Regions from separate parts of the Homo sapiens genome. Here region 1 is linked to region 2. The links come from fine-mapping of genetic effects on gene expression. A gene starts in region 2. The other region holds a variant in brackets. All regions are shown on one strand. Distances are between the middles of the regions.

Region 1 (12,489 bases), 110 kb after region 2:
TGTTTTCCTCCTTTTTTTTTTTTTTTCTTTTTTTTCTTTTCTTTTTTTTTTTTTTAATTGATCATTCTTGGGTGTTTCTCGCAGAGGGGGATTTGGCAGGGTCATAGGACAATAGTGGAGGGAAGGTCAGCAGACAAACAAGTGAACAAAGGTCTCCGGTTTTCCTAGGCAGAGTGTTTGTGTCCCTGGGTACTTGAGATTAGGGAGTGGTGATGACTCTTAACGAGCATGCTGCCTTCAAGCATCTGTTTAACAAAGCACATCTTGCACCGCCCTTAATCCATTTAACCCTGAGTGGACACAGCACATGTTTCAGAGAGCACTGGGTTGGGGGTAAGGTCATAGATCAACAGGATCCCAAGGCAGAAGAATTTTTCTTAGTACAGAACAAAATGAAAAGTCTCCCATGTCTACTACTTTCTACACAGACACCGCAACCATCCGATTTCTCAATCTTTTCCCCACCTTGCCCCCTTTTCTATTCCACAAAACCGCCATTGTCATCATGGCCCGTTCTCAATGAGCTGTTGGGTACACCTCCCAGATGGGGTGGTGGCCGGGCAGAGGGGCTCCTCACTTCCCAGTAGGGGTGGCCGGGCAGAGGGGCTCCTCACTTCCCAGTAGGGGTGGCCGGAGGGAGGTGCCCCTCACCTCCCGGACGGGGCGGCTGACCGGGCGGGGGGCTGACCCCCCCACCTCCCTCCCACACGGGGTGGTGGCCGGGCAGAGGGGCTCCTCACTTCCCAGTAGGGGTGGCCGGAGGGAGGTGCCCCTCACCTCCCAGACGGGGTGGCTGACCGGGCGGGGGGCTGACCCCCCCACCTCCCTCCCGGACGGGGCGGCTGGCCGGGCGGGGGGCTGACCCCCCCCACCTCCCTCCCACACGGGGTGGTGGCCGGGCAGAGGGGCTCCTCACTTCCCAGTAGGGGCTGCCGGGCAGAGGCGCCCCTCACCTCCCGGATGGGGCGGCTGGCCGGGCGGGGGGCTGACCCCCCCCCACCTCCTTCCCGGACGGGGCGGCTGGCCAGGCGGGGGGCTGACCCCCCCACCTCCCTCCCGGACGGGGCGGGTGGCCGGGCGGGGGGCTGAGACCCCCACCTCCCTCCCAGACGGGACGGCTGACCAGGCGGGGGGCTGACCCCCTCACCTCCCTCCCGGACGGGGCGGCTGGCCGGGCGGGGGGCTGACCCCCCCACCTCCCTCCCGGACGGGGCGGCTGGCCGGGCAGAGGGGCTCCTCACTTCCCAGTAGGGGCGGCCAGGCAGAGGTGCCCCTCACCTCCCGGACGGGGCGGCTGGCCGGGCGGGGGGCTGACCCCCCCACCTCCCTCCCGGACGGGGCGGCTGCCGGACGGAGACGCTCCTCACTTCCCAGACGGGGTGGCAGCCGGGCGGAGGGGCTCCTCACTTCTCAGACGGGGCGGCTGCCAGGCGGAGGGTCTCCTCACATCCCAGACAGGGCGGTGGGGCAGAGGCGCTCCCCACATCTCAGACGATGGGCGGCCGGGCGGAGATGCTCTTCACTTCCTAGATGGGATGGCGGCCGGGAAGAGGCGCTCCTCACTTCCCAGGTGGGATGGCGGCCGGGCAGAGACGCTCCTCACTTTCCAGACTGGGCAGCCAGGCAGAGGGGCTCCTCACGTCCCAGACGATGGGCGGCCAGGCAGAGACGCTCCTCACTTCCCAGACGGGGTGGCGGACCGGCAGAGGCTGCAATCTCCGCACTTTGGGGGGCCAAGACAGGCGGCTGGGAGGTGGAGGTTGTAGCGAGCCGAGATCACGCCACTGCACTCCAGCCTGGGCACCATTGAGCACTGAGTTAACGAGACTCCGTCTGCAATCCTGGCACCTCGGGAGGCCGAGGCTGGCGGATCACTCGCGGTTAGGAGCTGGAGACCAGCCCGGCCAACACAGCGAAACCCCGTTTCCACCAAAAAAATACGAAAACCAGTCAGGCGTGGCGGCGCGCGCCTGCAATCGCAGGCACTCGGCAGGCTGAGGCAGGACAATCAGGCAGGGAGGTTGCAGTGAGCCGAGATGGCAGCAGGACAGTCCAGCTTTGGCTCGGCATGAGAGGGAGACCGTGGAAAGGGGAGAGGAGAGGTGAGAGGTGAGAGGAGAGAGAGGGGAGAGGGGAGAGGGGAGAGGAGAGAGGAGAGAGCTGTTTTCCTCCTTTTAAAGTAAAAATTATCTAGCTGAAATGGGAAAGAGTTCCTGCATAGGACTTTCTCAGCTTATTAATAGTTTGTTGTTTTTGTTTGTTTTTTTATTTAGAGACAAGGTCTCACTCTGTGGCCCAGGCGGGAGTGCAGTGGTGCGATCACAGCTCACTGAAGCCTTGAACTCCTGGGCTCAAGCTGTCCTGCCTCAGCCTCTCAAGTAGCTGCAACTACAGGTGTGCACCACCACTCCAGGCTAATCTTTAAAAATTTTTTGAAGAGATGGGGTCTTGCTGTTTCGCCTGGGCTATTCTCCAACTCCTGGGCTCAAGCAATCCTCCTGCCTCAGCCTCCCAAAGTGCTGGGATTATAGGTGTGAGCCACCATGCTAGGCCTCAGTTTTTGTTTTTTAATTTGTCCTGAAGCACTTGGTCCCACCCTTCTGGGATAGTGTTTTAGTTACTGTTTGAGAACCCAACAATTGGAGGAAATAATTAGGCATAGATTCAAATTAAAAGGTTGGGAAGGGGCTGGGTGTGGTGGCTCACGCCTGTACTCCCAGCACTTTGGGAGACCAAAGCAGGTGGATCACCTGAGGTCAGGAGTTCGAGACCAGCCTGGCCAACATGCTGAAACCTTGTCTCTACTAAAAATACAAAAATTAGCCTGCCATGGTGGCACATGCCTGTAGTTCCAGCTACTCGGGAGGCTGAGGCAGGAGAATCACTTGAACCCAGGAGGCAGAGCTAGAGAAAGATGGACTTGCCACGGTCCCTGGTCTTGGTGGGCTGGGCGTGGAGCTGGAATGATGTGAGGCTCTCCAGGGGAGCAGGGACACACACTCATATATGCACAGCCTGCCCAGGCTGTGGGGTGTGGCTCGGTCCCCCCATGCCCAGACAGGACTAATGGCTTTGTCCTGCTGGGGAGCGAGAAGCAAGGGGCCCTGTGGTCACCTGATGCAGCCTAACCACAGGGCGGCGAATTGTCTTTTCTTTCGGTAGATGCTGGGTCTTGCTGTGTTGCCTGGACTGTAATTTTTACAGCTGTAAGTTGCGATGCAGCTCAGTCTGCATCTGTACAGCCTCTGACATACAGAGTTGTATTTTTGTTGTTTTCCAGCCTGTTTCACAACTTAAGCGTGTTTACTTTCCCCACTCCCAAAAGAAAATTGTGCATTTTAGAAAGAAATTACTTAGGATTTTAATATGATGGACCTCTATCCAAAAAATTACATTGTGATCATTCTTTAATTTACCAACTGTTACTGAATTATATATTTTTCTGTTTAGATTAAACCCTCAACAATTCAGCAGATGAGTCCTACAGTGGGAGACGGCAGGGAGTTTTTCTTGATGCTTTGAGGTGGACGTGGCCATTACCTAAAACGTCAGCTAGGCGTTAGAAAGCAAATACCAATACCTGTTTTAACAAAGTAGCAAAGTAGGCAGGTAGCATTTTTTTAAATTTATCTTTTGGTTAAAAAATGTATGCACCTGACAGGAAGTTCAAAAGGTGCAAAAGGACTCTCAGTGAAAGTCTTTCTCCCACTCCTGTCCTGGGCCACCCAGTTCCCTCGTCAGACACATATTCAGGTGTGTGTGTGTGTGTGTGTGTGTGCCCTCATGTCACACAAATGTAAACTAGTATTAAAATACTGACCATATCTTTCCATCTCCATCCAAATAGAGCACCCTCATTTTTGCAGTTTTCTGGGCTCCACTGTTTAGATGTTCCATAATGTATTTAACCTGTCCCTGTTGATGGATATTTGCAGTTGGAAATACCGGGTACTGAGAGTGTTCATTGCAGCATTATTTATACTCATGGAAGATTGAACATCTACACAGTGGAATGCTAAGGGAATTGCTAAGTGGGATTGTTGGGTGAAAGGTTAAATGTTCTTTAAATTTTGAGAGGGTATCGCCTAATTGCCTTCACACACTAGCCACATATGAGTGTGCTGGTCCCCTGCCACTAATGTGGTGCCTTACCCAGCTATTTTCTCTTTACCCAGTGTGCTAGATTAAACATTTTTTGTTTTGTTTTGTTTTTGTTTTGTTTTAAGACAGTCTCACTCTGTCACTTATGCTGGAGTGCAGTGGCGCGATCTCAGCTCACTGCAACCTCCACCTCCCAGGTTCAAGTGATTCTTCCACCTGAGCCTCCCAAGTAGCTGGGATTACAGACACCGGCCACCATGCCTGGCTAATCTTTTGTATTTTTAGTAGAGACGGGGTTTCACCATGTTGGCCATCGAACTCCTGGCCTCAGGTGATCCACCCGCCTGGGCCTCCCAAAGTATTGGGATTACAGGTGTGAGCCACCGCACCCGGCCTCGTTGTGGTTTTAACATAACATTTCTCTTGCCATGAGGCAGGCTGAACATGTTCTCAAGCATGTGTCTTTTTAAATTTACACACACTTATTTTAGCATGTAAACATTTTTGCGAATGATTTTATTAACAGGTCATCTTGAGAAAACGTAGTAATTGGCATTTGTGATGTGTGTGAGTGCCGAGGCTTGGGTTTGGGCCCCCAGCGCCTGCATCCCATGGCTGCGTTGAATATGTGACTCCCCTCGTCCCTTAGCAACCCAAGGGGTTAGCTGTCACTCCCCCATCAGACAGCCAAGCCCCCACTCCCCACGCTGCTCACGGGACCTGCTCAGTCCGGCCTCGAATTCACTAAAGACTGCGCTGCAGCGGGCTGGGCTCGGGCTCTGGCTCTGGAGTCCGACTTCATCATCATTGTCTGCAGAAGGAGGATAGCCTTTGAGGGGTTTCTTCTTAACTGGAAGCCTTTTAAAGTCACTTCCGTGCATCCTGATGCCTGCAGTGTAAATGACTGCACCAGCAGCAGGCACCGAGGCAACTTTGTGACCTTGCTGTTGAGTCATCCTGGGGAACAGAGGATGTGAATCACCCCAGGGCGGCTGCAGCAAGAGGACTCTGTGGGGCAGGAGCAGAGAGTGGAGAGCTTGGGAGCGCCCTGCGCCCCTGGCTCTGGCTCTGGCCCCAGCTGCTAGAGGAGAGAGAGGAGTGGGCCATGGTGATCCCCGTACCACACACACCCCAGCCACTGCCCTGCCGAGGACAGACTGAGGCCGGGTCTTCAGCGGCCCAGGTGGCCCTGATAGCTCCCAGCAGCATACTGGAGACACGGAGCCTGGATGGTAGGGCCTGTGCTGAGGTGTCACGGCGACGTCCCCACAGCCTCTAAGGGAGTCCCGGAAGGACGCCTTAGACCCTTGGCATTCTGCCTGGCCTTCTCTTCATCCCCTCCCTCCCTCCAGGCAAAAGCCAGTGAACTAAGTTGGGCTCCAGGCCAGTGCCCTGATGCCCAGGACTGGGGGTGACCTGTGTGGGGAGGGCCTGGCACACGGGTGGATGGGAAGGGACCTCGCAGAACCCTTGTGGGGAAGGGGCTACGTTTTGTTTCCTGGCCGTGAGGAAGGTGGAGGGCAGCCAGTGAGCCCGCCCTTCAGTCCACGGTCTGCTGGCCTTTGGCTCCGACCCCCGCAGATGTCACCCTGGTGACGCAGCTGCAACAACGCATCGAAGGTCACAGCATCAGAGACAGCAGTGATTTGTTAACACAGGGGTCGGGAGAAGCCAAAAAAACAACCCAAATCAGGCTGGAATGCACGGCCCAG[A/G]GGTCCACGGCGAACCCTGGATCATAAGGAGACCGTGTAGGTAAAGAGCGGGGAGGAGAAATCGCGCAGCCTCGAGCTTTGCTGAGGGTGGGGAACGCAGGGTTGATCCGAGTGCGGAGGCAGGAGTGGGACTCCGAGGACAGACACTGTAGTCCCGGCCGGCCAGGCAGCATGGCCCATGTTTGACCGTGAACTGCAGGACAAGCTGAACTGCCTTAAGTAACAGGGAATTGGGGCCCGCGGGCTGCGTAAAAGCCCGTCGCTCTTTGGGTGTTAGAGCTGGTAAAGCTTCCGCCTTTCTCCATCAGGAGCAGGTTGGCTTCCTGCAGACTTTTCTTGGTGTCCTGGTTCCTCTTTTGTGACCTCTTGCTGATGGGTCTCTTTTGTTTTTCAAATGTGTGACTTGAACAGGGTGGTGTAGGCGGCCCTAACTCCGGGACCTGGCTGATCTGAGGCCGCCGGACGTCACCACCCCAGAGCAGCCCCGTGGCCCGCGCTGCCTGAGAGGGGGCCTGCTCACCTGGCTTCAGGTCCTGGTCCTGGCCCCACGGGCAGCGTGGCTCCCAGTGCCTCTGTGGGTGATTGTGTGAGAGCATGTGTGTGTGTGAGTGAATGTGTGCATGAGTGTGAGAGCGTGTGTGTGTGAGTGAATGTGAGTGAACGTGTATATGAGTGACTGAGAGCGTGTGTGTGAATGTGAGTGAACGTGTATATGAGTGACTGAGAGCGTGTGTGTGTGAGTGAATGTGAGTGAACGTGTATATGAGTGACTGTGAGAGCGTGTGTGTATGTGAGTGAACGTGTATATGAGTGACTGTGAGAGCGTGTGTGTGAGTGAATGTGAGTGAACGTGTATATGAGTGACTGTGAGAGCATGTGTCTAAGTGAATGTGAGTGAACGTGTATATGAGTGACTGTGAGAGCGTGTGTGTGAGTGAATGTGAGTGAACGTGTATATGAGTGACTGTGAGAGCATGTAAGTGAATGTGAGTGAACGTGTATATGAGTGACTGTGAGAGCGTGTGTGTGTAAGTGAATGTGAGTGAACGTGTATGAGTGACTGTGAGAGCGTGTGTGAGTGAATGTGAGTGAACGTGTATATGAGTGACTGAGAGCGTGTGTGTGTGAATGTGAGTGAACGTGTATATGAGTGACTGAGAGCGTGTGTGTGTGAATGTGAGTGAACGTGTATATGAGTGACTGTGAGAGCGTGTGTGTGAATGTGAGTGAACGTGTATATGAGTGACTGTGAGCGTGTGTGTGTGAGAATGTGAGTGAACGTGTATATGAGTGACTGAGAGCATGTGTCTAAGTGAATGTGAGTGAACGTGTATATGAGTGACTGTGAGAGCGTGTGTGTGTGAGTGAATGTGAGTGAACGTGTATATGAGTGACTGTGAGAGCGTGTGTGAGTGAATGAGTGAATGTGTATATGAGTGACTGTGAGAGCATGTGTGTAAGTGAATGTGAGTGAACGTGTATATGAGTGACTGTGAGAGCATGTGTGTGAATGTGAGTGAACGTGTATATGAGTGACTGTGAGAGCGTGTGTGTGTGAGTGAATGTGAGTGAACGTGTATATGAGTGACTGAGAGCGTGTGTGTGAGTGAATGTGAGTGAACGTGTATATGAGTGACTGTGAGAGCACGTGTGTAAGTGAATGTGAGTGAACGTGTATATGAGTGACTGAGAGCGTGTGTGAGTGAATGTGTGTATGAGTGACTGTGAGAGCATGTGTGAGTGAATGTGAGTGAACGTGTATATGAGTGACTGTGAGAGCATGTGTGTGTGAGTGAATGTGAGTGAACGTGTATATGAGTGACTGTGAGAGCATGTGTGTAAGTGAATGTGAGTGAACATGTATATGAGTGACTGTGAGAGCATGTGTGTGAAAACCAAAGGAGACCCCTGACCCATCAGCAAGAGATCACAAAAGAGGAGCCTGAAGAAAGCCCAGGCTGGACCGGAGTTGAATCTTCACAAGGAATCCAGGCCAGGAATGGGCTTAGGAAAGCCAGGAAGTGTGACGTGAATACTGGCAGATAGCAACAGAGCTGAGAGCGCCATTCCCAGACCAAGCAGAGATTCAGACAGCCGGGTCCAGGCTACATGCGCATTCCCTGAGGAGGAGCTTCTGTAGTGACACGTACGTTCACACGCCCCCCTCATATGCACACATTCACACACACAGTCACATACTCTCATTCACACACATTCACACTCACCTTCATACACATTCACCCACTGTCACACACTCTCATACTCTTTCACACACATGCACACATTCACACCCACCTTCATACATACTCATTTACACATTCACACACAATGCATTTACACACACATCCACACATCCACACCCACCCTCATATTCACTCACACATGTTAACACACATACACCCATTCACACTCACATTCACACACACACATGCATTCACACACACATTCACTTACATGCTCTCACAGCCACACCCATATACACATTCACCCACAATTTCCCACACATGCACTCTCATTCCTTAATGCTCACACCCTGACTCGCGTATGTCTATGCACACATACACTCATTCCCACTCGCCCTCACAGGCTCACACTTCCTTCCACTACCCTGGGACGAAAGTGCCATGGGAAGCCAGTCTTGCTGTGTTCACAGCCGAGTGCCCAGTGCCTAGACCAGTGCCTGGTGCTCAGCAGATGCTCAGTGAGCATTTGTGGAACGAAGGAACGAACGAGTGAATGAATGAAGAGCGAGCAGAGCCTGGATCCCTCGTCAGCTCTATGCTGCCATGTAGAGGCTTAAATGAGAGCAAAAGTAATATCGATAAGGAAAAGATAGCCATATCGACATGACAAACAATTTGACATACAAAATGAAGACAAACATCCTGGAAGCTAAAATTCACAGGTGACGTTGCCTGTAAATGGATGAGGAGGGGTGAGAGTTCTGGGGAATGAGCCTCAGCCATACCGATTAGCAGGGATTCAGGCCAAGGCCCACAGCTGAAAGGCCCTACCTGCCATTTCCCCTGGCCCTGAAGATCAGGACAGAGATGCTGTCGGCCAGAAGATCCGGGTGATCCAGAGCCAGGGTGTCATCCCAGGTGTCTCTAGCAGGCATCCTTCAGGGCCATGTGGTTTAATGGCATGCTTTTCTGTGATGTGGCGCTGTGGGCATGGGGGTTTTCCCCTTGGTATCATTCGTATCAGTTTTGTGAGTTATGTTTGCTTGGAACTTGTGAGCTGTAACTGCTTCACATTTTCTTAGGAAACTTAAATTTAGCAGCAGGAAAATGAATTCATAACAGCATCTGTAGCTGAGAAGCTTCTGGGAAACTGGCTGCCCGTCATAGCCTCACTTTTGTGTCGGTGGACACTGGCCGACTCGGGGTCTGCTGCCAGTCAGCGCTGGGCTGCAGGTCTGCTGCTGTGAGGCCCGCTGCTGTGTGCTTGCTGTGGCTGCTTTTTAGGTAGATGAGGCAGATGCGACGTGGGGATGGCCACGGAGAGGCCACAGGCTCATTTCAGCGTCTCGTCTCTGACCGTCGCTGTCTCAAGTGAGGTGCTGCTGTGTGCTTGCTGTGGCTGCTTTTTAGGTAGATGAGGCAGATGCGACGTGGGGATGGCCACGGAGAGGCCACAGGCTCATTTCAGCGTCTCATCTCTGACTGTCACTGTCTCAAGTGAGGTGCAGACACTGGGGGCCGGGTGGGCCCTGGCTACTGATGGTGGTTCGGGGTCTGCAGTTGGCCGCTGGCCCTGGAGTGACATCAATGTGAACTCTCTGTGGGGTGTTCCCAGCTTCCAGATTCGTCCCTTATTTTAGAGTGCTCTGCCAGGTGGGTGGGTGGGCAGAGCTTTGCAGGGAAGCAGCAGTGAGAGCTCCTGCAGGCGGGCATCAAATGCCCAGCAAACCCCTGCGCTACCTGGGAGGTGGCAGCATCTCCACTCCTCCAGCATCCAGCCATGTGACTTTCTGGATGCAACTTCACTTCTCTGTGTCTGTTTCCTTTTGGTAAAATGGGAGCTTCTGTCTGTCCTTTCTGGGGGACCTGGGAGGATTAAGTGAAACAGCCTGCAAAACCCCACCACTCCAGGGCCCACTGTGTTCTGGGAACAAATGCCTCTAACCCTGGAGCTCCTGCTTTCATGCCAAAGCCCTGGGCCCTGGGTCAGGGCTCTGATGAGTGGAGAAACCGGAGGGCGGCCCTAAAAGGAGTGAGGCAGGGGATGGGCAGGACCCTGGGGAAGGGGCCAGACCCCCACCTCCACCCCCTACCCCATCCCTACCCTCACCCCTTCCCCCACCCCATCCCAACCCTCACCCCTCACCCCACCCCTACTCCCACCCTTACCCCTAACCTCACCCCCACTCCTACCCCCACACTCGCCCCTACCCTCACCCGCACCCCTACCTCACCCTTAACCCCACCACTACCCCCATCCTCACCTGTACCCTCACCCTCACCCCTACCCTCACCTCATCCCTACCTTTACCCTTACCCCCACCCTCACACCTACCCACACCCTCACCCCTATACCCACCGTCACCCTCACCCCCACCCTCAACCCTACCCTCACCCTTACCCCTACCCTCACCCCTACCTTCACCCTCACCCCTACCTTCACCCACGCCCCTAACCTCACCCTCACCCCTACCTTCACCCTCACCCCTACTTTTGCACTCACCCCTACCCCCACCCCTACCCCCACCCCCATCCCTACCCCCACCCCCACCCCTACCCCCACCCCAACCCCTACCCTCACCCCCACTCCTACCCTCAACCCCAACCTTACCCTCACACCCCTACCCTCACCCTCACCCCTACCTTCACCCTCACCCCTACCCCACCCTCACCCCTACCCTCACCCCCACCCTCACCCTTACCCCAGGCTCCTCACTGCTCTGTTTCCACCCCTCCTCTGTGGCCATAACAAATTACCAGAAACTGGGTGGCAGAGGATCACAGGATTGATTCTCCCACAGCCTGGGCAGGCTGTGCTCCCTCTGACAGCTCTGCAGAGGATCCTTCTGGCCAACTCCAACTGCTGGTGGCTGTATCAGTCCCATCTCTGTCTGTGCCTTCTCTGTGTGTCTGTGTCACATTATTAAATCTCCCTTGGCCTCTTTTATAAAGACACCCATTATTGGTTTGGGGCCAACCTTAACCCAGGATGATCTCATCTTGAGCTCCTTGACTCAATTATGTCTGCACAGACCCTTTTCCCAAATAAGGTCCCATTCACAGGTGCTGGGGTTAGGACATGGATGTAGCTTCTGTGGGGGCCACAGTTCAACCCACTCTGCTGTCCCTCCTGGGAAGCGACTGTGGGACCTGAACCCGCCCTAAGTATCAGAGGGTGACGGGGAAGAGGAAGGTGGGTCATTGGGTTGATTTGTAAACAAGGGAGGAAGGTGAGCCGGGATCTGCCACCTGCCCTTACAGAATGACCCATGAGATGCAGAACTGCTGTTAGATCCTAGTCAGCTATTCAGAGGCTCAGCAATCAGGTGATAATCATGACATCGAATAAAGGCACCTCCAGAAAATTGATCAGGTTATGGATTTCTTTCTCTCTTCCAAAATGAAAATCACCTTATTGGTTCCATTATAAAATCAGACCATGATATATGTTCATTGTTAAATTATCAGGCGATTCAAAAGGTAAAAAGGTAAACATCCCCCCAGATTCCACCCGTGACACTCGTGCTTGACACTGGCCGGTTTCCCCTGACGCTTTTCTGCTGGGCGTGGAGGAACAGGATTCCTCCCACCTGCTGACTTTCGCACCCACTAGCACACCCAGAGCATGGGCCAAGCCACCCTTGGCAGCTGTGCGGGCTCAGGTGTGTGGCTGACCTTTTTTTTTTTTTTTTAAGACAGAGTCTCACTCTGTCACCCAGGCTGGAGTGCAGTGGCGTGATCTGGGCTCACTGCAACCTCTGCCTCCCAGGTTCAAGTGATTCTCATGCCTCAGCCTCCCAAGCAGCTAGGATTACAGGCATGTGCTACCACACCCAGCTAAGTTTTGTATTTTTAGTAGAGACAGGGTTTTACCATGTTGGCCAGGGTGGTCTTGAACTCCTGACCTCAAGTGATCTGCCCGCCTCGGCCTCCTAAAGTGCTGGGATTACAAGAGTGAGTCACCACGCCCAGCCTGACCTCTCTCGTTTTTGTCTTGTTTCATATTTTGGATCTTAGGCTATCTCCAGTTGTCAGTATGGTAAGTGTTCTCTCACAGGGAGTAGCCTCCGTGCCCTGTCACCTTAGGGGTAGTGTGCTCCCTAGGAAGAGTGGCCTCACTACCATTCCCGGCCGCAGGTGTTACCAGCTGCCCCTGCAGCAGCCATCCCAGGCCCCAGGAGCAGGCGATTTTTCCCTTTCAACTCCCTGCTGAGCCTCCCTCTGCTCCTCTGTCTCAGCCAAGGCTAGCGCCTTCGTGGAAGGCCAACTTCAGGCGGTAACCATGGGGTCTCCCTGCTACAGGCCATGTTCGAGCTGGTCACTTCCGAGGCGTCCTACTACAAGAGTCTGAACCTGCTCGTGTCCCACTTCATGGAGAACGAGCGGATAAGGAAGATCCTGCACCCGTCCGAGGCGCACATCCTCTTCTCCAACGTCCTGGACGTGCTGGCTGTCAGTGAGCGGTGAGGACGGGGGGGACAGCCACCTCCCTC
Region 2 (12,489 bases):
ATTTGGGTTGGTTCCAAGTCTTTGCTATTGTGAATAGTGCCACAATAAACATACGTGTGCATGATGGGACGTATCTCAAAATAATAAGAGCTATTTATGACAAACCCACAGCCAGTATCACACTGAATGGGCAAAAACTGGAAGCATTCCCTTTAAATCTCACTAAATCTAAAGTCATCTCTATTTAATATTTTATATGTATATTTGAGATGGAGTCTCACTCTGTCACCCAGGCTGGAGTGCAGTGGCACAATCTTGGCTCACTGCAACCTCCGCCTCCTGGGTTCAAGCGATTCTCCTGCCTCAGCCTCCCAAGTAGCTGGGATTACAGGCACCCGCCACCAGGCCCAGCTAATTTTTTTATATATTTAGTAGAGACAGGGTTTCACCATGTTGGCCAGGCTGGTTTTAAACTCCTGACCTCAAGTGATCCACCTGCCTTGGCCTCCAAAAGTGCTAGGATTGCAGGCATGAGCCACTGTGCCCGGCCTACATCAATATTTTTTATTTCTACAACTTCTACCTTAAAAAATAATAATTTTCTTTTCTTATTTGATAGATTGTATTCCTTTATCTCATTAAGCACTTTAAGTGTATTTATTTCTAACAGTTTTACATACATTAATTTATTTAATTCTAACAGCAACTCTATGAAACAGGTGCTGTTTATCACCCCAATTTTGCAAAGCAGAAAATGAGGCAAAATGTGATTATGTGACTATTCCAAGGTCACACAATTAGTGATTTGTTGATTGAGATTTAAAAGCAGAAACAAAGGCATTTGAGCTGTTATGGGCTAAATTGTGTAATCTCAAAATTCATACGTTGAAATCTTCACCCCCAGTACTTCAGAATGTGACTATATTTGAAGATAGAGCCTTATTTATTTATTTATTTATTTAGAGATGGAGTCTCACTCTGTTGCATAGGCTGGAGTGCAATGATGCAATCTTGGCTCACTGCAACCTCCACCTCCCAGTTTCAAGCAATTGCCCCAGCCTCAGCCTCCTGAGTAGCTGGGATTACAGATGTGTGCCACCACATCCAGCTAATTTTGTATTTTTAGTAGAGACGGGGTTTCATCATGTTGGTAAGGCTGGTCTCGAACTCCTGACCTCAGGTGATCCACCTGCCTCAGCCTCCCAAAGTTCTGGGATTACAAGCGTGAGGCACTGTGCCTGGCCAATGGGGCCTTTAAAGAGGTAATTAAAGTAAAATGTGGTCATACGGGTGGGCCCTAATCCAATAAGATTGGTGTCCTTATAAGAAGAGAAAATTAGGACACAAAAGCGTGTGCACACACAGAGGAAAGACAGAACACAGAGAGAAAGCCACCACGTGCAAGCCAAGGAGAGAGGTCTCTGAAAAACAAATCTGCTGATACCTTGATCTTGAACTTTCAGCCTCCAGAACTGTAAGAAGTTTCTGTTGCTTAAGACTCCCAGTCTGTGGTAATTAGTTATAGCAGCCCTAGCAAACTAATACACTTACCTTCTTCACACACAAACATTTCTAACCTTTTCCTCCATCCAAGGTCAAGTACTTATGAATGCCAAGTTTGCTAAAACTTGTTATCATCTGACTGAGGCCAGGAGAGTCTTAATGGTTGTACTTTGAAATCCCAAGAAGGTAATTATGTCACACACCCACTTCTGAAATGAAACGCATACTTAGTTTTTAAGGTCTTTTTAAATATTGTTCTATTGTTTCTATTTTCTCATGTGTCAACTCTCCCATTTTTGTGGGATGTATTTCTTTATGTTGGACTTTCTCAAATGTTTTACAATTTGGTATTATCATGTTTAATAAATTATATTCTTCATATTGGTCTTCCTTAAGACCAATATGTTTTATAATTTCTGCCTATGAGCTCATCTTCAATGGGAATTATCCTTTCAGTGTGGTGGTGGAATTGTTCCTACCAGTGACCTAGATTGTGGCGACCTCCCCCTAGTTGCCTCTGCATAAGTCTTAAGGGGTCACAAATTCTCAAATTTTTTTCTCCATTTCCATCTTGGGATTTTTGTACATCATGAGTACATGTGTGGATCCAGCTTGTTCTCCACATTCTTGTGGGTAATTCTATTTCTATCCATGGCCTGGGACATTTTTTTACTTCTGATCTATAATCAACCTCGTCAAGCTTCCTGCTGTGTTCAAGTTCAGAGGCTTTGATTCTTGTTTCCCCATAACCATTAATTTATAACAAACACCATAAGGAATGTATGCTACAGTCCCTAAAGTACTCAGCTTACCGAGGTAAATATAGAATTATCTCTTCATTTGTGGCACCTGAACATGTACTTTTCTTGTTTTGAATTGAATTACATATTTACATTACAAAAAATATATATGCAGCATTTCTGTATGTTCCAGAAAATTTATGGGATCTCGGGAAAGCTTTAACCCCTTTAGATCTGGCTTCCTCATCCTAAGACTGTAGGGAAGATTAAACATGTTAATCCTTGTAAAGCACTTAGAACAGTGCCTGGTTCACAAGTACTCAGTAGGTGTTTTGATAAGTATTCCTGCTTCTGTTCAGTTCTTTTTCTTAACCAGGCCTGGTCCATCATCTTTATATATTTAAATTTTACTTTTCAAATAACCAAAACAATAACAATTAAAACATTTAGATTCTTCTCCTCTTCCCACCCCTTAAAGCAAACTTAACATGAGAAGGTATTTTATCATCTTAAAAAAAAAGTCTTATAATGAATTAAACTCATTATATTAATTATTCAATTCCTACAAATGCAAAATTATGAAAATTCCTTTGAAACAATTGGCTTATGACTACTAAGCTCATTAATGATCTATCAAAATTATCACTCAGAAAAGCATCACAAAAGCTTCGGGTCAAGGACACCCCAGGCCCTGAAAGGGATTTCTCAGTACCATCCCAGAATATTTCTATAGCACAACAGCCGACAGCCATTAAAAACAGTGAAGAACTTCAAAGTGTGCTAAATTGGAAAACCACCAAAACAGTAATACAGAACAGAACATACATGTTGAGATCCTGCCTAAGTAAAACAAAGGATATAGGTGTGTGTGTGTGTGTGTGTGTGTGTGTGTGTGTGTGTATGCACACAGACATGCAAGGGAGAGAGAGAGAGAGGGAGAGAGAGGCAGGGAGGTAGAGATTATGTATATATAGAACATTTCTGGAAGAACACTCATAAAACTGTTAACGTAGGTTATATAAAATGTTTTTGAGCAAGAAAGTGACAAGATCAGATCTGTGTCAGCAGATTCACATGGCTACTGAGTGGGATGGGGTGCTGAGGGCTGGAAGCAATTGGGAGAGACTGAAGCCAAGAGACCCATTTAAAGGACATTGCAATTGTCAGGTAGGAGTTGATGGGGGCCTGTTCTGAGGCAGTGAGATAGAGCAAAGGACAAAAAAGGAAATTAGATTCACTTTAGAAAGCCACCCAATTGCAGCCCCAGGGCCTAGCACAGTACCTACTGGTACTAGGTGCTCAATAGGAAAGAAATGGTCTCCTGCGTGAAAGACTTATAATTTTAATTTTCAAAGTCATCCCACTGGGCACCTGAACATGACAACCCCACTGGCCCCTTCACCCTCTTCTCACGAGTTCATTCCCTCAGCCCTGGGCCTGGGGAGCTGGGTTGTGGGGACAGGTCCACAGGCAGGTGAGTCCAGGGCTCAGGCCTCTACCTGTGCCCCTTGCTGGCCCTGCCCACCCAGGAGGTCCCTGCTGCATCCCCATGGTCCCACTCAGATCTATTCCTACACGCACACACACACACACACACACACACACACACACACACACACCCGCTACAAACACTTACATTTAGGAATTGCTTAAAATATATATTTTTAATGAGTGAAACAATGGAAGAGAGTGAGCAGAAGGATGAGGGTCTCATAAGTGTGGCATCTGATGATAGGTTGCAGGAAACAGCCAAAATTCCCAGAAGACAGAGCACTCAGCGGACACCTCTTCAACCTCGGCATGCAGGAAGGCTCTGTTGGAAGGCTTTGGTGGCAAGGGACAGAGAGGGGAAAGAGGGAGTTAATGCACTTATTTTAATATCTCTTGAGCCTAATGCGGGATCTGGTTTATAGTGCCCTGCTCAAATGTTTGTTGAATGAATGAAGGAAAGGTTGGATAAATGGGTGGATGGCTGGGTGGATGGCTGGATGGATATATGGGTAAATGGATGAGTGGATGGATGGATGGTGGATGGATAGATGGATGGGTGGATGGGTGGATGGATGGCTGGATGGATATATGGGTAAGTGGATGAGTGGATGGATGGATGGTGGATGGATAGATGGATGGGTGGATGGGTGGATGGATGGGTGGATGACTGGATGGGTGGATGGGTGGATGGATGAATGGGTGGGTGGATGGGTGGATGAGTAGATGGATGGGTAGATGGATGTGTGGATAAGTGGGTGGATGTGTGGATGAGTGGGTGGATGAATGGATGAGTAGGTGGGTGGGTGGATTGGTGGGTGGATGGGTGGGTGGATGGATGGATAGATGGTGGGTGGATGGATGGATGGGTGAAGGGATGGATGGTGGATGGATGGATGGTGGATGGATGGGTGGATAGATGGATGGGTGGATGGGTGGATAGATGGATGGGTGGATGGGTGGATAGATGGATGGGTGGATGGATGAATGGGTGGGTGGATGGGTAGTTGAGTAGATGGATGGGTAGATGAATGGGTGGATGAGTGGGTGGATGAATGGATGAGTAGATGGTTGGGTAGATGAATGGGTGGATGAGTGGGTGGATGAATGGATGAGTAGATGGTTGGGTGGATGGATGGATGGATGGATGGATGGATGGATGGATGGATGGATGGTTGGATGGATAGATGGTGGGTGGATGGATGGATGGAAGGGTGGGTGGATGGATGGGTGGGTGGATGGAAGTGTGGATGGGTGGATGGATGGGTGGATGGGTGGATAATGGATGGATGGATGGGTGGATGGATGGGTGGATGGGTGGATGATGGATGGATGGGTGGATGGATGGTGGATGGATGGATGGACGGATGGATGGGTGGATGGGTGGATGGATGGGTGGATGGGTGGATGGATGGGTGAGAGAATAGATGAGAGACTACTTCAATCTGGCTTTCAGGGACAAAACTGAAACCCATGTTTTGTGGCAATCAGATGGCTGTGGGAACTTTCAAAGATGGCCCTCAGGGACCCCCACCCCTGGTATTGTGCCCTGTGTAATCCCCTACCTTTGAGTGTAGGCTGTGCCTGATGACTTCCTTCTAACGAGTAGAATATGCCAGAAGTGATGGAATATCACATCCTTGAGTATATTACAAAAGACTGACCTACCTCTTCCCAGACTCTCTCCATAGCCCTCTCTGATGCAACGAGCTGCCAGGGCGGAGAGGCCCACATGGCAAAGGACTGATAGTGGCCACAGCTGACAGCTGAGAGGGGCTGAGGCCTTCATCCTACAGCCCTAAGAAACTGAATCCTGCCAACACCAGCAGCTTGGAAGTGGATCCCCCCTAGTGGAGCCATGAGATGAGACCTCAGCCCCTCCAACACTTGGATGGCAACTTATGAGAAACCCTGAGCAGAGAACCCAGCCAAGCAGTGCCCAGACTTCTAGCCACAGAAACTGAGATGACAAATGAGTGTTATTTCAAGCCACACACTTTGAGTTAATTTGTTTCCAGAACAGATAGCTAAAACAAACGCTGATTTGAGTTTTATATAAAGATGGATGATGTAGCAATTAAACTTGGCAAATGATGGTAGTGGTTTTGATACTAGTTGGCTTGGGTTTGAATCCTGGATCCCCAACTTACTAGCTGTGGGGCTTTGAGCAAGATGATCAATTTCTTGAGCCTCTGTTTCTGCATCTTTAAAATGGGCATGATTCTCTGGTCATAGTGACAACACAAGGATTACATAGATTATGTAATGTACTTAGCCCAGTGCCTGTCATGTAGTAAGCACTGGATTAAAGGAAGCTATTAGAGGGAATAATAATAATAATAATAATAATAATAATAATAATAATAATGGAGCAAGATGCCTTACAAAGCAGTGAGTGTTCCATGCCTGGAAGTGATTGAGTTAAGGCCAGATGGCCATGGCAGGAAGTGACTAGAACCCTGGAGGACCCCAAAGCCTCTCCCAAATCTCAGATTTGAGGGCCGTGCAGCTGGCTTGGCCAATGCTTGGGGTTGGTGGGCCAGCTGAGCCACGGGCCCCTCTTGGTGTGACCATCAGCATTATCTTGCACTGGGCGGGCGGCGGGTATTCCAGCCATGCCCAGCCTTCCCCTCAGATAGCCCTTCCCTCCTGCACCACTTTTGTGTCAGGTATGTGGCTGCCACCCTGGCTCAACCCATGGGGCCCAGGAAGGTAAACACCCAGCCGGGAAGTGATCGTTATGGGCTCGTGGCCAGCTATGGGCCAAGGCAGGTCTAAAGGTCGGGAATGCTTACCAGTGAAGCTTTTCCAGGACAGGACGAAGTTTTTGGCTGTGGGCTCTCTGGGACAGAGTGGAGCGCCTGTGGATTTAGCCGGGGACACACCATCCTGCTCGCAGGTGCCTGGACAGGACAGGGGACGAGGGAGGAACACTCTCTGAGGAAGCCCAACTCCTATGAGCTCCTCTCTGGCAGGTGAGAGAATGGTTTTGGTATTTTTTAAAAAAATAAAATGAGATAAAACAAGAGAAGGAACAGAGGCTACCGCTAGGACAGGTAGGAAAGGAGATTACCACCCATCCATTCACTGAGGAGGAGCCCCCAAGAGAAACAGCAGCCCTGGATTCCACCCGAGGGATCCTGTCTGGTCTCGGCTTCAGCACTGCCCCTCCTGGCACTCAGTTTCACCATCTGGGAATCAGGATAAGGACTCCTTCCAGGCGCTCTTCCATTATGGCTGTGGGGTAAGTGAGATCAAAAGCAGGAATGGCTGCATAATTGCAGGGCCCTGTGCAATATAAAAATGCAGGGCCCCTTGTTAAAATAGTAAGGCTTTCAAAAGGACAACAACACAGCATTAAAGCAAGCCGGGGCACCTTCTAAGAACAGGGCCCTGTGACTGCCCAGGCCCCACACCCACGACGCCAGTCCTGATAATGAGCGTATATGTAAACGGAAGTGCCCTGATTCCTGTGTGCCATGGCACAAATCTCAGGGTCAGGAAGTGCACTTGGGAAACAGAAGTCATAGTCGTGAAGTGACAGCCCACTGCGCTTTAGCTCCCCCAGCACTGCCCCCTCCGCTCAGGGGCCCCTTTCAGAAAGACAGAAGGCCCTACCCCTCAGAACCTTCCTGATTTTTGCATCTGGCTGGCCTCAAGCCACAGCACGGTGTGACTGAAATGTGTAGGGACACAGTTTTCTTGGATGTGAAAGTGGTAGGTTCTTATTGTCTATCTTGATTTAAAATTTGGGACAGTCACACAGTCTCTGGCTGTGTAGAGGTGGGACTTGTGTTTCCTGGGCTCGTGACAGCTCTGCTATGTTCCATTGACTATCAGTGTATTTCTGCTTTTTGGGAAAATCCTTAATGCAATAAGGCCACTGGTGGGAATGTTCCAGCTTGGACACTTGCCATGTGTCTTTGTCCTCCCTGCCCCTTCTCTCTTTCTCTCTCTCTCTCTCTCTTTTTCCATTTAGGCTTCCCCTTTGCCCATGTCTCAGGCTGCCCCTTGGCACTGCTTAGCTCTGAGGAAGTAGAAGCCAGGGTCCCCTTGGGGGTCAAGCTTTCTGGTCCATGAAGGGAGACCACAGACCACCTCCCTCCACCGCACTCTCCTCCCACATCCCTTTCTGGAGCCCAAATTGTCATGGGAACCCCTCCCAGGGAGGGGATCCCCACAGGAAAGCCAGGGGTTGATCCAATGACAGTGTGAGTAACATTCCACAGCTTTCTGCCCCAGTGGGGCTGGGGACACAGATGAGGCTAGACATGGGGGAAGATGAATTGCTTTAAGAAGAGCTGATGCATGCCTGTAGTCTCAGCCACTCAGGAGGCAGAGGCAGGAGGGCTGCTTGAGCCCAGAAGTCATGCGGTGGGCTATGATCATATCACTGCATTCCAACCTGGGCAACCTGGCAAGACTCTGTCTCTGTTCCTTTTTTTTTTTTTTTTTCATTGCTTTAAGAACTTCCCTTGGCCTGTGGGAGACCGGAAGCTTGTACCAGTAACAAAATAGCCCAGATGTTGTGGGGCCACCCAGAGCCTCTCAGAGGAGACCAAACCTAACCACCCAAGCCTGCTGGCTCTACCAGGGGCGCAGGAGCTGCTGTTTGTCCCAAGAAGCTGGTGAGCCACCAGCACCAAGTCGGACATCCCGTCTCCCAAGATGACGTCCCTTCCCCATCTACATGGGCCCATTGCTTCCCGAGTAAGGAGTCAGCTCTGATGCTCTGAAGTCACCCCCCAGCACAACCCCAATGGCAAAAATTCCTTTACTCCTTCATAGATAATTGCTGTGCACAGTGTATGTGTGAGGCTTTGAAGTGGGGCTGGGGACACAGATGGGACAATGGTGGCCCTCAGGCTAGTGGAGATGAAGCGATGCTGTGTCCCACACCCCCGAGGCCAGGCCAGAAACCCCGCTTGGTGAAAAGAGCACACCAGCCCTCTCACCCCAACAACGGTGATAGGATCCTGAGGCTGAGAGGCACCGTGGCCCAGCGGAGCAGGGGGTTCCATCTCTGAGCCTGGATGGGCTGCCTCTTTTCAGACCCCCCTTCTCCCCGCACCTAAGCCCCCTCTGCTACCATGATGGTGTCTTCAGGAGGCTGCTGGGCCTCAGGAAAAATTCCTTCCCTTGGCCTGGGACCACCTCTCCCCACCTTGGGAGAGGTCAGACCAGGGGGTGGAATTCTGCCTCCAGACTGGAGGACCCACCCCAGAAGGCTGAGGACTTCAGCCTTACTCCTCCTCCCTTTGTTTGGCAGCCATCCTGGAGGCCAGGGCCGTGGGAGACCACATGGGGTCTGAGCACTGAGGAGGGGCCATTTGCTGGAGCACCCTCTGTGGGCTGCTTTTGGGAAACTAGCTCAGGTGGTTGATTAAGGACCTGGGAGCCTGGGTGAGGCCATCTCACAATCTTCCTGCCTCAACTCACTTTGCCTGTGGACAAGGAAAAAAAAAAATCACACGTTCAAATGAGGAGGATGGGCACCATCAAAGGGATGGATGATCAGCAAGGCCTGCATGGAGGAGGTGGCCTCTGAGCTGGCCATCATTCAACAATCTTCCATCACTTATTAATGATTTTCCAGGAGGAGGAGAAGAACTGGGGGTGTGGTTTGATGTATTATAAAGCAAGCATTACTACCTTGAAAATAAGGTAGTAATTCTTTTCACACTCACTCAGAATGAATGCTCCAGGTTCTCTAAATAGCATACGTTCACAGATAGCACATTCCAGGTGAAGGGACAGCAGGGTTTTAGCAAAAGGGAGGGAGCCCTGCAGTAAGGGTTGGGCCAGTGGAGGCAGAGACAGGGGAGGCATGAGGTCTGTTTAAAAGATGCCAGCTGGGCGTGCTGGCTCACACCTGTAATCCCAGCACTTTGGGAGGCTGAGGCGCATGGATTACCAGAGGTCAGAAGTTCAAGACCAGTCTGGTCAACATAGTGAAACCCCATCTCTACTAAAAATACAAAAATTGGCATGGTGGTGGACCCCTGTAATCGCAGCTACTCAGGAGGCTGAGGCAGGAGAATGGCTTGAACCCAGGAGGCAGAGGTTGCAGTGAGCCAAGTTCACGCCATTGCACTACAGGCAAGGTGACAAGAGGAAGACTCCAATTCAAAAAAAGAGAGACAGGACAGGTGGAGTGGAGGGAAGGTGGAGGGGATGGCCCAACCCAAGATGCCAGGACCCCAGAGGTCCACAGAGATGAGAGTGGGGGTCTGGATGGCCAGCGTGTCCCATGGGAAATTCATCCCTCACTTCTGCACCCTGCACCTGGTGGCTGTGCCTCAGTTGCCTTCACTTTGGGCTGGAGCTTCATGCACCAGCACCATGTCTCCCAAAGCTAGAAGCTCTGACCTCCAATCATCCAGGAGTTTTACTTTTTTTTTTTTTCTGTAGAGATGGGTTCTCACCATCTTGCCCAGGCTCATCCCAAACTCTTACACTCCAGCAATCCTCCCACCTTGGCCTCCCAAAGTGCTGGGATTAGAAGAGTGAGCCACTGCACCTGGCCCCAAGTTGCTGATGAGTTTAAAAATGGGTATATGAACCGGGTGCAGTGGGGTGTCCTGTAGTCCCAGCTACTCTGGAGGCTGAGGTGGGAGGATCGCAAATTCAGATCCAGCCTGGGCAAAATAGCAAGACCCCCATCTCTAAAAATAAATAGATCAATAAAAAGGAGTTTTGGGCAGCAACATGGATAGAAGTGGAGGCCATTATGTCAAATGAGATAAACCAAGCATAGAAAGACATATATCTCGTGTTCTCACTCATATGTGGGAGCTAAAACTGTGAAGTGGGTCTCATGATGACAGACAGTAGACTGCTGGTTACTGGAGGCCAGGAAGTGGAGCAGGGACGCAGGGATGAAGGAGTGAAAAAGAATAAAGATACTTATTGTCACTGAACTGCACACTTAAAAATTATGAAGATGGGCCGGGTGTGGTGGCTCACACCTGTAATCTCAGCATTTTTGGAGGCCAAGGTGGGCAGATCACTTGAGGCCAGGAGTTCAAGACCAGCCTGGCCAACATGGCAAAACCCTGTCTCTACTAAATATACAAAAATTAACTGGGCGTAGTGGCACCTGTAATCCCAGCTACTCGGGAGGCTGAGGCAGGAGAATCACTTGAACCAGGGAGGTGGAGGTTGCAGTGAGCCAAGATCAAACCACTGCACTAAGCCTGGGCCACAGAGCAAGACTCCGTCTCAAAAAAGAAAAAAAAAAAAAGATGCAGATGGTAAAGTTTTTTAAAAAAAGGAAAAAGAAATATCTATTGAAAAACTGAAAAGAAACAGAGGTGCCAATTCACTATTAGTTAATGAGTATGTTTCCTACCAGAGACAAATCCTTCAAAATATAGGCTCTGCAGAAGGGCAAGCAACTTGGACAGTGCCCTTCAAGGGATGAGAGAAGCTTGGGAACCACAGAGGCAGTGACAGGGGATATGGAAGGCAAGCTGGGCCTAAGGCCCTTGACCCCCAGGTCCCGCCCCAAAGTGGCCAGGGTCAGTCCCAAGGTGCTGACTTTTGGAGTGTTGCTCTATCTTATGTACAAGTTAGTGCAACCTGCTTGTATCAGTCTTTCAGGCTACATGACAGTGAACTCCATGAAGGCCAAATCCCTGGAGAGTACCTCATGCAGCCCATCAACAAGCAATTGCTGGATGCAATTGCTCTCTGGGCCCAAAGTGAAAAGATGGCAAAACTGCCTGCTCCTCTCCCAAGCTCTCCACCATCATTTCAGACCCCCACAACTGCCTCCATACCCTTTACCGCAATCCACATAAGCAGATCAAGAAAACTCAATTTCCTACTCTCAGCTGATACACTCAGTGTTGCTGAGCGAAAATAGATTCCTATTAAATCCCACCAATGGGGTGAAAAATTTCCAAGTATTTGAAGTTTTTAGAACCCTCACATATGGGTTTTATTTTTCAGGATGCTCCCAAGTCATAAATCCACTCATGAGAGTGAGGACAAAGATCAAGACAGTTTTGCTCTCATCTGAGTGAGAAAAACATTCCTTGGTGGATTCTTGAGCGTTGGAGGAAAGCCTTCCTTTCTGCCAAGTTCCTTTTTAGGAAATTAGCTTTGGACTTTAAAATGATTTTAAAGTTGTTTCTGGATTGAAAAGGGCATCTGGCGCCTGGACAACTTTTCCTGGTGCCTGAGATATCAGAGCAGTCACTTGCAACTTTCTACAGATTTCTGGCCTCTTTGGAAGCATTCCTAAATCAAGAGCAAAGTCATTCGCCATTGGCCACCTTGGGTTCCAAGTCAAGGGTAAGAAATGGAGCTCAGGGTCATAATGAAGTCGTTTGGATGCTCAATCTAAAATCAACAGGCTCATCTAGGCTGTGTTTGGGAAAACATTATTATAGCTAATTTGTGTATTCATTGGAGAAATATCACAGAAAATGCCAAAATTAAGTAGCATGCATAGACAGCCAGCATCTTCTCATGTGAGCAGTGCTAGGGTCCTGCCAGGTTAAAAGCCCCCGGTGTGCATCCTCCTCCCTTTCTCAGCCTTCACTAGGCACCAGTTTGCGCTGCTCTTCTCTGTGAGTTGTCCCCACTGGAGACCCACGATCAGCCTGAGCAGGGCTCAGACACAGAGCTACCTGGCGGCTACCTGGCGGGCCAAAGGGTTCTTCCTAGAAACCTAGGCTGGGCCATTATCTACCTTTGTTCCCCCTCCAAATACTCTGTGATCGTTAAAGCTGTTTTCTTGAGAAACGCTATTTGCTTTAAAAGTTAGAATTGTATTTATTTATTTATTTATTTGAGACAGGGTCTTGCTCTG

Alleles and levels. Alleles are on the strand shown, and positions count from the first base shown. SD is a standard deviation of normalised expression in the study named.
In carriers of allele A in region 1, the expression in adrenal gland of the gene that starts at base 6,458 in region 2 tends to be higher than with G alone (moderate effect, 0.64 SD a copy in GTEx).

The links. PIP is the estimated chance that this variant, and not a neighbour inherited with it, causes the effect.
Region 1: its variant is fine-mapped to the expression of NGEF in adrenal gland (GTEx, PIP above 0.99).

What each region holds. Positions count from the first base shown.
Region 1 is chr2:232,894,726-232,907,214 of GRCh38, reverse strand. It overlaps NGEF (neuronal guanine nucleotide exchange factor), which reads left to right. Exons shown (of 15, transcript NM_019850.3): 6 at 12,299-12,459. Among named protein-coding and RNA genes, the nearest start is that of SNORC, 31 kb to the right of the region's middle. RefSeq lists enhancers at 1,223-1,867, 1,868-2,513, 4,476-5,675, 5,557-6,180, 6,181-6,806. The variant A/G (reference allele first, on the strand shown) is at 5,814.
Region 2 is chr2:233,007,225-233,019,713 of GRCh38, reverse strand. It overlaps NGEF (neuronal guanine nucleotide exchange factor), which reads left to right and starts at 6,458. Exons shown (of 15, transcript NM_019850.3): 1 at 6,458-6,646. LOC101928881 (a long non-coding RNA gene) reads right to left here and starts at 7,100. Exons shown (of 3, transcript NR_136325.1): 1 at 6,745-7,100; 2 at 6,467-6,574; 3 at 3,829-4,007.